Linked DNA regions of Homo sapiens: region 2 is linked to region 1. Evidence: fine-mapped expression QTL. A gene starts in region 1. The other region holds a variant in brackets. All regions are shown on one strand. Distances are from middle to middle. Region 1 holds the start of EIF3B (eukaryotic translation initiation factor 3 subunit B). Region 2 has its middle 20 kb from the start of CHST12.

The links.
Region 2: its variant is fine-mapped to the expression of EIF3B in spleen (GTEx, PIP 0.91).

What each region holds. Positions count from the first base shown.
Region 1 is chr7:2,352,670-2,357,669 of GRCh38, reverse strand. EIF3B (eukaryotic translation initiation factor 3 subunit B) reads right to left here and starts at 2,843. Exons shown (of 19, transcript NM_001037283.2): 1 at 2,250-2,843. The coding sequence starts at 2,748. It also overlaps a transcript of SNX8 not described here. RefSeq lists silencers at 2,387-2,496, 2,547-2,636, 2,817-2,956 and enhancers at 3,757-3,826, 3,497-4,052.
Region 2 is chr7:2,380,986-2,386,493 of GRCh38, reverse strand. It overlaps the pseudogene KIF19BP. Among named protein-coding and RNA genes, the nearest start is that of CHST12, 20 kb to the left of the region's middle. The variant G/A (reference allele first, on the strand shown) is at 2,326.

The DNA of each region.
Region 1 (5,000 bases):
TTCTCAACACTAAATAGCAAATAGAAAGAGAAAGAATAGTTAATGAGCCAAAAAAGACATTTAGAGTTAAAATCCTGGATCAGCTGAAACATTAAACTGAAAGGATGATTACAGTTTGAGAAGCTAATCTGTACCAAAAAAGTAATAAAGCAAGACAGGGACTCCAGGCCACCTCTGGCCTGCTCCTTGGAAGACTTGGCCCTTCTGGAAAGAACTGATACAGTCACCTACGGTCTTGCACAATGACCCTGAAGGGCAGCTCTTCTCATAAAGCACAAAACCTGCGTTACCACAACCAGGAGGGCCATGACAAAGTCGGCTTCCTGAGCCTTAGTCCTCAGGACCAGATGCCTCACCTGTCACTCTGGCCAACACTGCACCTTCAGGGCCACGTGGGCCCGCTGAGGACCCACAGCCGTCACCCAGCCTGGCCAACCCTGTCGTCATATTAGCATCCTCTGACTCTTCCCAATTCCAGAAGTAATCTACGTATTAGAAATCTGTGAATTCGATGGGCTCAAATAATGCTTTTTAAAAAAGTAGCAGAATATCCAAGGGCTCAAAATAATCATTAAACCAAAAGTTTTGATTTTTAAACCATAATAACAATTGAAGCGTTAGAAAGAACACTGTTCTGAGCAGGAGAGTCTGGTGGGCCAAGCAGTATAGACCCACTGGGAATTCTCAGCAGCCTACTCCACCTTCAGGGACAAGTTTCCTCAGGACTGAGGGGCGTAGACTAGATGTTCCCAAAGTCTTTAGTTTGTGGTGTCCTTCCTGCTTTTCATGCTAAAATGTCTTTTATGAAAAAAAAAAGTGTAATATAGTAATGGTCACAGTAACTGACAGCGTTTTTATTTTTTAATTTTTCACTTTTTGAGACAGGGTCTCACTCTGTCGCCCAGGCAGTGGTGGGATCTAGGCTCACTGCAACCTCCACCTCCTGGGTTAAAGTGATTCTCGTGCCTCAGCCTCCCAAGTACCTGAGACTACAGGTGTGCACCAGCACACCTGGCTGACTTGTATTTCTGATAACCTTTTTTTCTTTTTCTTTTTTTTTTTTTTTTGAGACGGAGTCTTGCTCTGTCGCCCAGGATGGAGTGCAGTGGCAGGATCTCGGCTCACTGCAAGCTCCGCCTCCCAGGTTCACACCATTCTCCTGCCTCAGCCTCCAGAGTAGCTGGGAAATCCAGGTGCCCGCCACCACGCCCGGCTAATTTTTTTTTATTTTTAGTAGAGACGGGGTTTCACCGTGTTAGCCAGGATGGTGACCTCGTGATCCACCCGTCTCGGCCTCCCAAAGTGCTGGGATTACAGGCGTGAGCCACCCAGCCCGGCCCTCTGATAGCCTTTTAAAAATACGTTTAAATCATAAATTGGCAACTCCATGTTATTCCCGAAATTGTCCTGGTGTATCGCTGGCTACATCAGCAAGGGTATTTTTATTTTTCTCACTCTAGTATCAACTTAGCCAATCTGCAGAGGCTGATGTGTTCCCAACTTAAAGGCTTAAGAGAGCTAAAAAACAAAAGAAAAACAAATGAGACCAGCTCTCATCAGAAGTAGCTTCAGGAAAAAATCTCTGAGACAGGAAGCAAAAATATGCCTGTAAATCCAATCAAGGTTGAGATGAAGGCAAAGCTGGCTGTTATCGGCAATATTAAAACCTGGAAAAATAACTCTCTTTATAGATTTAGCGCAAGAGATAAAGAAAAATCAAACTGGAATTTCACAGGGTGCCTGTCCCACTAAGGAAGTCTCTGGAGATGGACAATTCTGAGGGGCAGGAGGACAAAATCACCGGCTCTGCCACAAGCTGTTCCTCCGATCCAGACCTTGGGAGGTCTGACTGGTCAGCTCTGGGGACACGTAGACCCGCAAACCTGCCACCGGGTCTTCGGTTTTTGCCGTACCCCCAGCTGCTACACTCACAGCACACCCAGCCATAACGGAGTACCCCATGTGCCCTCTCCCACCCTCTCAGATTTCTGGTTGTCATGCAAATGCCTGGCTCCCGAAGTGAGCTCCACCCTGTCCCCTTTTTCAGGAAAGAAAAGGGGAGGCGCTGGGCTCTCAGAACACTTCCAGGGCACTCGGGAACCCCTCCCTCGGTGGCTTCTCAGGAACACACGGACACCCTCGCTGGAACTTCTGCACGAACCGGTGGCACAGCCCGACGATATCTCCCACCTCGGGAACCCCAGCCACGCTCCCGCGCCGCTCGCCAGCCCCGCCCCGGGCGCCCTCACCTTCCTCGCTCACGTCGTCCACGAAGTCCTCGGGGTCGCTGAAGGAGGGCTCGTCCGCGTCGCCGTTCTCCAGCGCCCGGGGTTCGGCCTCGGCCGCTCTGCCCTCGTTTCCTCCCGCGTCCTCGGACACCGCCTGGGCCCGGCTGTCGGAGCGCTCGTCCCGAGCCTGCTCTCCTGGGGCCTCGCCCTGTGCCGGGACAGGGGGCTCAGCATGCGACCCGGGCAGCTCCTCGGCGGCCGGCGGCGAGGGCGACTCGGACGGGCCGGAGGCCGCCTCTGCCTCGGCCGCCGGCTCGGTCCTCACCTCGGACTCCGGCCCGGCCTCCGCGATCCCCACCTCCTCACTGGAGGCCTCGGTCCCCGCGGCCTCCGGAGCGCCGGGCCCCGCGGGCCGCAGCAGCCCCTCGGCTGGCGGCGGCTCGGCGGCCGGCTGCTGCTGGCCGGGCTCGGCGCGCTCCTCGGCCGCCTCGGGCACCGCCACGTTCTCCGCGTCCTGCATGGGCCCAACGCTGCCTACTCGCAGGGCTCCGCGGCCGCCGCGCTTCCGACTCTCCCAGGCCGCACCGCGCGCCGCGACGGCTACAGCCCAGCCATGTGCGTGCGACGGGGAGGCCGCACCAAGGCCGCGGGGCGGGGGGCGCACCCACGCCCTGGGGCCTCACGAACGACCCTGAGAGGACTCGCATCCACAAGACCGCGCCCGAAAATCATCAAACTGATATATTTGTGACAAGAAAGTGCTTAATTCCATTCAGCAAGGTTGTTTCTGTGCATCAGTAAACTCATGGGAGCATTGACCACCCCATGTGTGGCAGCAGATGGTTCCGTCCAACATGGCGTCCTCCCCCTTTCCTTTCCCGTCGGACGCTGCGGGGCGGGACTGAACTATTTGTGGAGCTGAAGGCGGGGACAAGAAATGATTTTAGTACCCGGAATGCTAGGAAAATGTCCTCTAACTCAACAGTTAATACCCTGGAAGAGTGGAGACTCAACAGGCGATTGCTCAGGGCGTCTGAGCCTTTCGCTAGGGAAACCGTTTAGTTTACGTTACTAAAGTCCCCCCTGTCCGTGTCTGTCACTTGGACTCGCCTACTGACTGAGCAAAAGGACAGACTACTTCAAAATAGAAAAGGAATTCGGGGCGAGCCAGAGAGGGCCCACACGACTAGAAGGACGACTGCCTGGCGCGATACAAAAATGTATGGAAGTTTCTTTAATCGCTTACCCCCAGTCCTTCCCTAGCGGCCGTCACTGCCTGTTTCCCCCCATTCGGGCTTTCACAGTGGTTCAGTCCATCCGAGGCCGCCGCCTTCAGCGCGGGACAGCGCGGGTCACGTGGGGGCGGGGGCGGGTCCTCGCCGCGTGGAGCTCGAGGCTGACTCCGGAGGGACCGGAGCGGTTCGCTCTGCGCGGGTGCTCACGGGACGGGCATTGGGTGCATGTGGCTTCTATCTTGTTTTTTGCCGGAGTGGAGGACAACCACTGGTTGGGGGATGTCTTAATCATCCTAGAAAACAACCCAGTGGATCACGCCTGTTATCCCAGCACTTTGGGAGGCTGAGGTGGGAAGATCGCTTGAGCTTAGGAGTTGGAGACCAGCCTTGCCAACATAGCACCACCACCCCCCGCACGCCAGCCCTCATCTCTACGAAAATTAAATAAATAAATAAAACAGGTGGTACCCAGAGGCTGGGGTGGAGAGTGGGGAGTGTTTATCGGGGACGGACCTTCAATTTGGGAGGATGAGAACGTTTTGGAGATGACGGTGGTGATGGTACAACATGGTGAATGTACTTGATGCCACTGAACTGTATACTAAACTTCATATTAAAATGGCTAGGCCCTGCGCGGTGGCTCACACCTCTCTTCCCAGTACTTTGGGAGGCCAAGACAGGAGGATCACTTGAGCCCAAGAGTTCAAGACCAGTCAGGGCAACATAGCGAGACCCTGTCTTCGAAAAAATAAAATAAAATGCCAAAAAGGTAAATTTTATGTATATTTCATCCTATAGTTTTTTTGTTTTGTTTGTTTTCAGAGATAGGGTCTCGCTCTGTTGCCCAGGCTAGAGTGCGGTGGCATAATCACAGCGCCGCTGCAATCGGGACCTTCCAGCCTCAAGAGAATCCTCCCACCTCAGCCTCCCAAAGTGCCAGGATTACAAGCGTGAACCACCGCGCAGGGCCTAGCCATTTTAATATGCAATTTAGTGTACAGTTCAGTGACATTAAGTACATTGCCAAGTACTTGGGACTGAAGGTATGTGCCACCGTGCCCAGCTAATTTCTTTATTTGTAGATAGCATCTCACTGTGTTGCCCAGGCTGGTCTCAAACTCCTGGCCTCAAGCAGTCTTCCTCCCTCAGCTTCCCAAAGTGCCGGGACTATAGGCATGAGCCACCACACCCATCCCATCCTAACGGTGTTTAAAAGAGCGAAAAAGAAGCAGAGTCTTCCCATGCCTAGTACCAGGTTTGACTACTCCTCATCATGCTGTCAGTGGTGTATCTTTGGGCAGGTCACTTAATGCCTCCACCTCAGTTTCCGCATCTGTACAATAAGGGATGACAATTTTTTTTTTTTTTATTTAGACGGAGTGTTGCTCTGTCGCCTAGGCTGGAGTGCAGTGGCACGATCTCGGCTCACTGCAAGCTCCACCTCCCGGGTTCACGCCATTCTCTTGCCTCAGCCTCCCAAGTAGCTGGGAATACAGGTGCCCGCCACCACGCCTGGCTGATTTTTTTTGTATTTTTT
Region 2 (5,508 bases), 29 kb before region 1:
GCCTGAGCCTCCCAAGTAGCTGGGACTACAGGCGTGCACCACCACACCTGGCTAATTTTGTATTTTTAGTAGAGACGAGGTTTCTCCATGTTGGTCAGGCTGGTCTCGAACTCCTAACCCCAGTGACTCACCAGCCTCAGCCTCCCAAAGTGCTCGGATTACAGGTGTGAGTCACTGCACCTGGCCAACTTCCATTCTTTTTATCCATGATGCAGGTGCATCATGCAAAGGATAAGGACCTCTGCAAAGATCCTATGAAGCCACCGTCCTCTCCCACCCTACTTGTCCCCACTCTCTCAGCTGATTCCTTGGGTCTCGACCCCCTCTGCCATGTCCTTTCCTGCAGAGCCTGTCTCCCCTCGAATTAAACGCCTGTCTGGTTTTTTCGTTTGCTTTTCCGTGAACTCAGCACTGATTCACCTGCCCCCTCTGCAGTCCACTCCCCCTGGGGATGTCTGTGCACCTGATCTTCTGTCCATTTCATCTTCTTTTTTTTTGTTGTTCTTTTTTTTTTTTTTTTTTTTGAGACGGAGTCTCGCTCTGTCACCCAGGCTGGAGTGCAGCGGCGCAATCTCGGCTCACTGCAAGCTCCATCTCCCGGGTTCATGCCATTCTCCTGCCTCAGCCTCCTGAGTAGCTGAGACTACAGGCACCTGCCACCATGCCCACCCAATCTTTTTTATTTTTAGTAGAGACGGGGTTTCACCGTGTTAGCCAGGATGGTCTCGATCTCCTGACCTCGTGATCCACCCACCTCAGCCTCCCAAAGTGCTGGGATTACAGGCATGAGCCACCGCGCCTGGTCCATTTCATCTTCTTTTTTTTTTTTATTTTATTTTATTTTTTTTTTTGAGACGGAGTCTCGCTGTCGCCCAGGCTGGAGTGCAGTGGCGCAATCTCGGCTCACTGCAGGCTCCGCCCCCTGGGGTTCACGCCATTCTCCTGCCTCAGCCTCCCGAGTAGCTGGGACTACAGGCGCCCGCCACCTCGCCCGGCTAATTTTTTGTATTTTTAGTAGAGACGGGGTTTCACCGTGTTAGCCAGGATGGTCTCGATCTCCTGACCTCGTGATCCGCCCGCCTCGGCCTCCCAAAGTGCTGGGATTACAGGCGTGAGCCACCGCGCCCGGCCGTCCATTTCATCTTCTTGCAGACGATGCCCTGAGCCTCCTGACCTGGGACCAGGACTGGTGCCCCCCTGCCCAGCGGGGAGCTCCCTCTGACACACCCAGGGTCCCCTGCCCCTGAGTGCACATGACTCCCAGGGGCCATGTCTCCTTCCTTATGAAGCTGCCTCTCTAATGACGAACGGGAAAACCTGATCCACTTGGCGACACTGAGTTCCACCCCACACTGGGCATTTCTTCTTATGAGTGACCACCGAGGCCATAGACATCCCTAACCTGTGGCAACAGCTTGGCTTCTGAGCCTGCTTCAAAGTGGCAGAGATCCCCGTGCTGGACAGCATGCTGGCGCCCTTCCCTGCTGAGCTGCAGCCACCCAGGCCCTTTCCAGCCACACAATTTCAGAGCCAGGCCTGCTGAAGGCTCTGCCCTCCTCCCAGCCCCCTCCCTGCTCTGTGGCCCTGCCACATGCTCCTGCTGGGGGGCTCCAGCCTGCTCCCCTGCCCTGACTTTGCCCACCCCCACGGGCTCTGCTGTATTCTCCTGGTGGCACTCATCTCTCCCTTTGTGTGCCCCGAACCCTGACTAGAAACTGGGCCCAGTGGGGTGGGCATGGTGTCAGTCTTAGCCACACCTCCAGGACAGAGCCCCATCTGTGAGCTTGTGACAGCAGGGAGCCCCCTGAGCCCCAGCCTCACCTGGTCCCCCACTTTGTGGGCGATGACCGCGGCTCCCTCCTTCAGTTCTGCGTCATTGAGCGGGTGGATTCGAAGTGCCACCTGCAGGCAGTCACCAGGGCGGCTGCTCTGGGATCTGCTCAGTCTCTGTGAAGAGGTGAAGGCAGCAGCTCAGCCCCGTGCCCCTCAGGGTGGGCTCTGACTTCACTCCCACGGGGCTGCCCGTGCCCCCAACAAGACATGGCCTCCCTCACTGAGGAGATGGGGAGGTTGAGGCACACAGCAGGGAGCGCCTGCCCAAGGCCTTGCCTCCCAGTCCTGCCACCTCCAGAAGAGATGCTGAGCTCCTTCATGGGAAACTTCCCCAAGGGGAAACTGGGGGCCTTGCCATCCCCACTCCCTATTCTGAGGGCCAGATCCCGGCCTCAAACCCACCCAGCTGGATAGTAACTGTGGCCCCAGGACGCTTGTTTCCCCCTCTATAAAAGGGACACATTTTTTGGTAGAAACAGCAGCTGTGGCTGA[G/A]GGACAGTCATGACTGGCATCTCTTTTTACCCAGCTACAGCCCTGGGGCAAGTCCCCAGCTCAGCTCACCGCTGTCCAGTTGGCGGAGGCTCTGAGTCCCCCAGCAGATGGCCTGGATTGGGCCCAGGGAGGGGGCTGGGGAGCCCAGAGCCCGCACACCCAGGTGCCAGCAGCATGGGGATTAGGGGTGGAGAGGGTGTCTGGAGGCTCAAGGCGGGGGTGCGGAGGCAGTGGGGAAGAGCGGGGCAGCTAGCTCCCAGCGAGGGAAAGTTGGGGAGTAGACCGGGCTGATAACAGAGCAGAGGGGTCGCCGGGGTTGCAGGCTTGGGAGGCGGCGTCGGGCACTCGCAGACTGGGGGGGCGGGAACACGAGGGAGGGCGCTCACCATTAGTGGCTGGTCTTTGGGCTCCATCTCTCAACGCCGGGCTGCCCCGGGCCGGGGAGGGACCTGCAGCCTGGCAGGAGGGTATGGGCAGCGGGATGCGCTCCCTATCACAGCAGAGATGAGACCTGCCTGCGCTCAGCCCCGCTCTGCTCTGCCTAGGTGACATCAGCTGGGCCTTGGGGAGCCGGGCTGGCACCACTCATGTGGTTGGGGCCTCAAGGAGCAGGGTGGCCCTCTCGATCACCTTGGCACACAGGGACAGCGCCAGACGCTACAGCAGCCTCTATCTCCACCCTCACTATGGCAACCCCCGGTTTCCATGTGCCTCACCCGGTGCACATGAGCCAGCCTGACACCCACCAGGACACAGGTGGAGGGGCTGCCCCTCTTCTTTGCAGGGTGGGTCCCTCTACCACCTTGAGCCCAGGAGAGGCGCTGCCCACCTCAGGGCCCCTCACACAGAAACCAGGATGGCCCTGGAGCTTTTCCCTTGAAGCAGACAAATGGCAGCAGCTGAAACTTCACACAGCAACTTGAGCAACTTCGACTGCAACTGCCGTTTCCAACGGCGACTATGTTTCTTTTTTTTTTTCTTGTCACCCAGGCCGGAGTGCAGTGGTACAATCTTGGCTCACTGCAACCTCTGCTTCCTGGGTTCAAGCAATTCTCCTGCCTCAGCCTCCCGAGTAGCTGGGATTACAGGCACCTGCCACAATTTTGTGGCTCATTTTTGTATTTTTAGTAGAGATGGGGTTTCACCATGTTGGCCAGGCTGGTCTCGAACTCCTGACCTCAGGTGATCTGCCCGCCTTGGCCTCCCAAAGTGCTGGGATTACAGGCGTGAGCCACCCGCGCCCGGCCCGCGACCACGTCTCCTCCCCTTTCCCAGTAAGCGCTTGATTGGCTCTCAGGTGTATTCAACACCTAAAGGCTGTGCTCCTTTTCCACTGCAAGCCCGGGGAAAGGCACCGCACCGTGAACCTGCTCCCCAAGGTCACCTGACCCGTCCAGGCTGAGCTAACCAGAGTGCAGGACGACACTGCCCAGAGCCAGGGTCGGTGCCAAGCACAGAAACCCGCTCCTGCACTGACAGAGATCACGCCAAAGCCAGGCCGGGCGTGGCACACGCCTGTAATCCCAGCTACTCGGGAGGCTGAGGCAGAATTGCTTGAACCCGGGAGGTGGAGGTTGCAGTGAGCCGAGATCACGCCATTGCACTCCAGCCTGGGCAACAGAGCAAGACCTTGTCTTGACAGAAAAAAAAAAAAAAAAAAAAAGTAAAGAAATCACATTAAAATCGGATCCAAGCTGTTCAAGCCTGGCCAAGTCCAACTTCATGATGCCAACCACGGAGCTGAAAGGGCCCGGGGGTCCATTCCCGCCAGAGTGGGCGACTCAAGCCCTCCCAAGAGCCACCATGCCTTTCCCATAAGCCGACTGCCTGGCAGCTCAGCTGTGCAAGGCCAGGGCATGTTTTTGGCCACATCCATCTCTTTCTTGGCATCCGGGTCAACACTGTGCAGCAGGAAACCCCAGCCAGGTGGATTCGGCTACCCCTCCAACAACCACATCCCTGTCCTCTAGGAGGATGAGGCTCCAGCGTCTGACCACGGCACTTGCCGGGAACACGTTTACAAGTCCCCGCGTTCTTGCCTGCCTCAGCCTCCTGAAACACAACCAAGGCCATGCCTGCAGCAGGGGTCCCAAACACCCCCCCCCCCCGATGTCCTGAGCCCGCCAGCCGTGGGGACCCTGATACCCAGGAAGTCCCTCCACAGCAGGCCGGCTCTGGGAGATCCATGTCTACCGTAGCAAAGTTAAAACCAACGCAAGGGCTTCAGAAATCCTTTACGAATTATATGAAACAATGACAACTAGTACATTTAAAACAGTGGAAAGTTAATTTTTTTTAGAATATCTGTTAAAAATCTGTCATATGGTAGAACTGTGTGCCTTTCTTCTTTCGATGAAATCAGAAAAACTTTCTCGGCACACTAGAATTTAAGCAGCAAGAGTATAAACAAGAATTACTAATAAAATGTGCACTGGAGGGACACAGGATGAACGGCAGGACTGCGACAATTCTAGAACTGTAGAATCGCAGATGAGAGAAATGTAGGGCTCCCAAAAAAGCAAACGCACCAAGGCGCCCTCCTCACACCTGGGAGACCCAGTGTGACCTGAGGCTCTAGGCCACTCCTCCAGGGTGGCAGGAGCCCGGGTCCTCTGCCCTGTGAATTACAGCCCCTCCCAGTCTCCAAACGTTGCCTTAGGTTTGTAAATGGCCCTTGGCTGTGAGTTCTGAGGGCTGCCTCAGGTTTGAGGAGTTGAAAAGAGGTGGATGAAACTGCAGGGTCACAGGTGCCAGTGGGAAGTGACACCCTGTCAACAGGAGGGGCTGAAATTACCCCAATTTGTGGGCTCCCTTCCCAACAGGAAACAAGTTCAGAACTGGCCGGGCACGGTGGCTCACTCCTGTAATTCCAGCACTGTGGAAGGCCAAGGCGGGTAAACCACATCAGGAGTTTGAGATCAGGCTGGCCAACATGGTGAAACTCTGTCTCTACTAAAAGTACAAAAAATTAGCTGGGCGTGGTGGCACATGCGTCGTCCTAGCTACTCAGGAGGCTGAGGCAGGAGCATCGCTTGAACCCGGGAGGCGGAGGTTGCAGTGAGCCAAGATTGCGCCACTGTACTCCAACCCGAGTGATAGTGCGAGACTCCATCTCAAAATGAAAAAACGGGCAGAACTGACCATTCTCAATACAAGTTTCCCAATGTGTCTAACTCCAAGGAA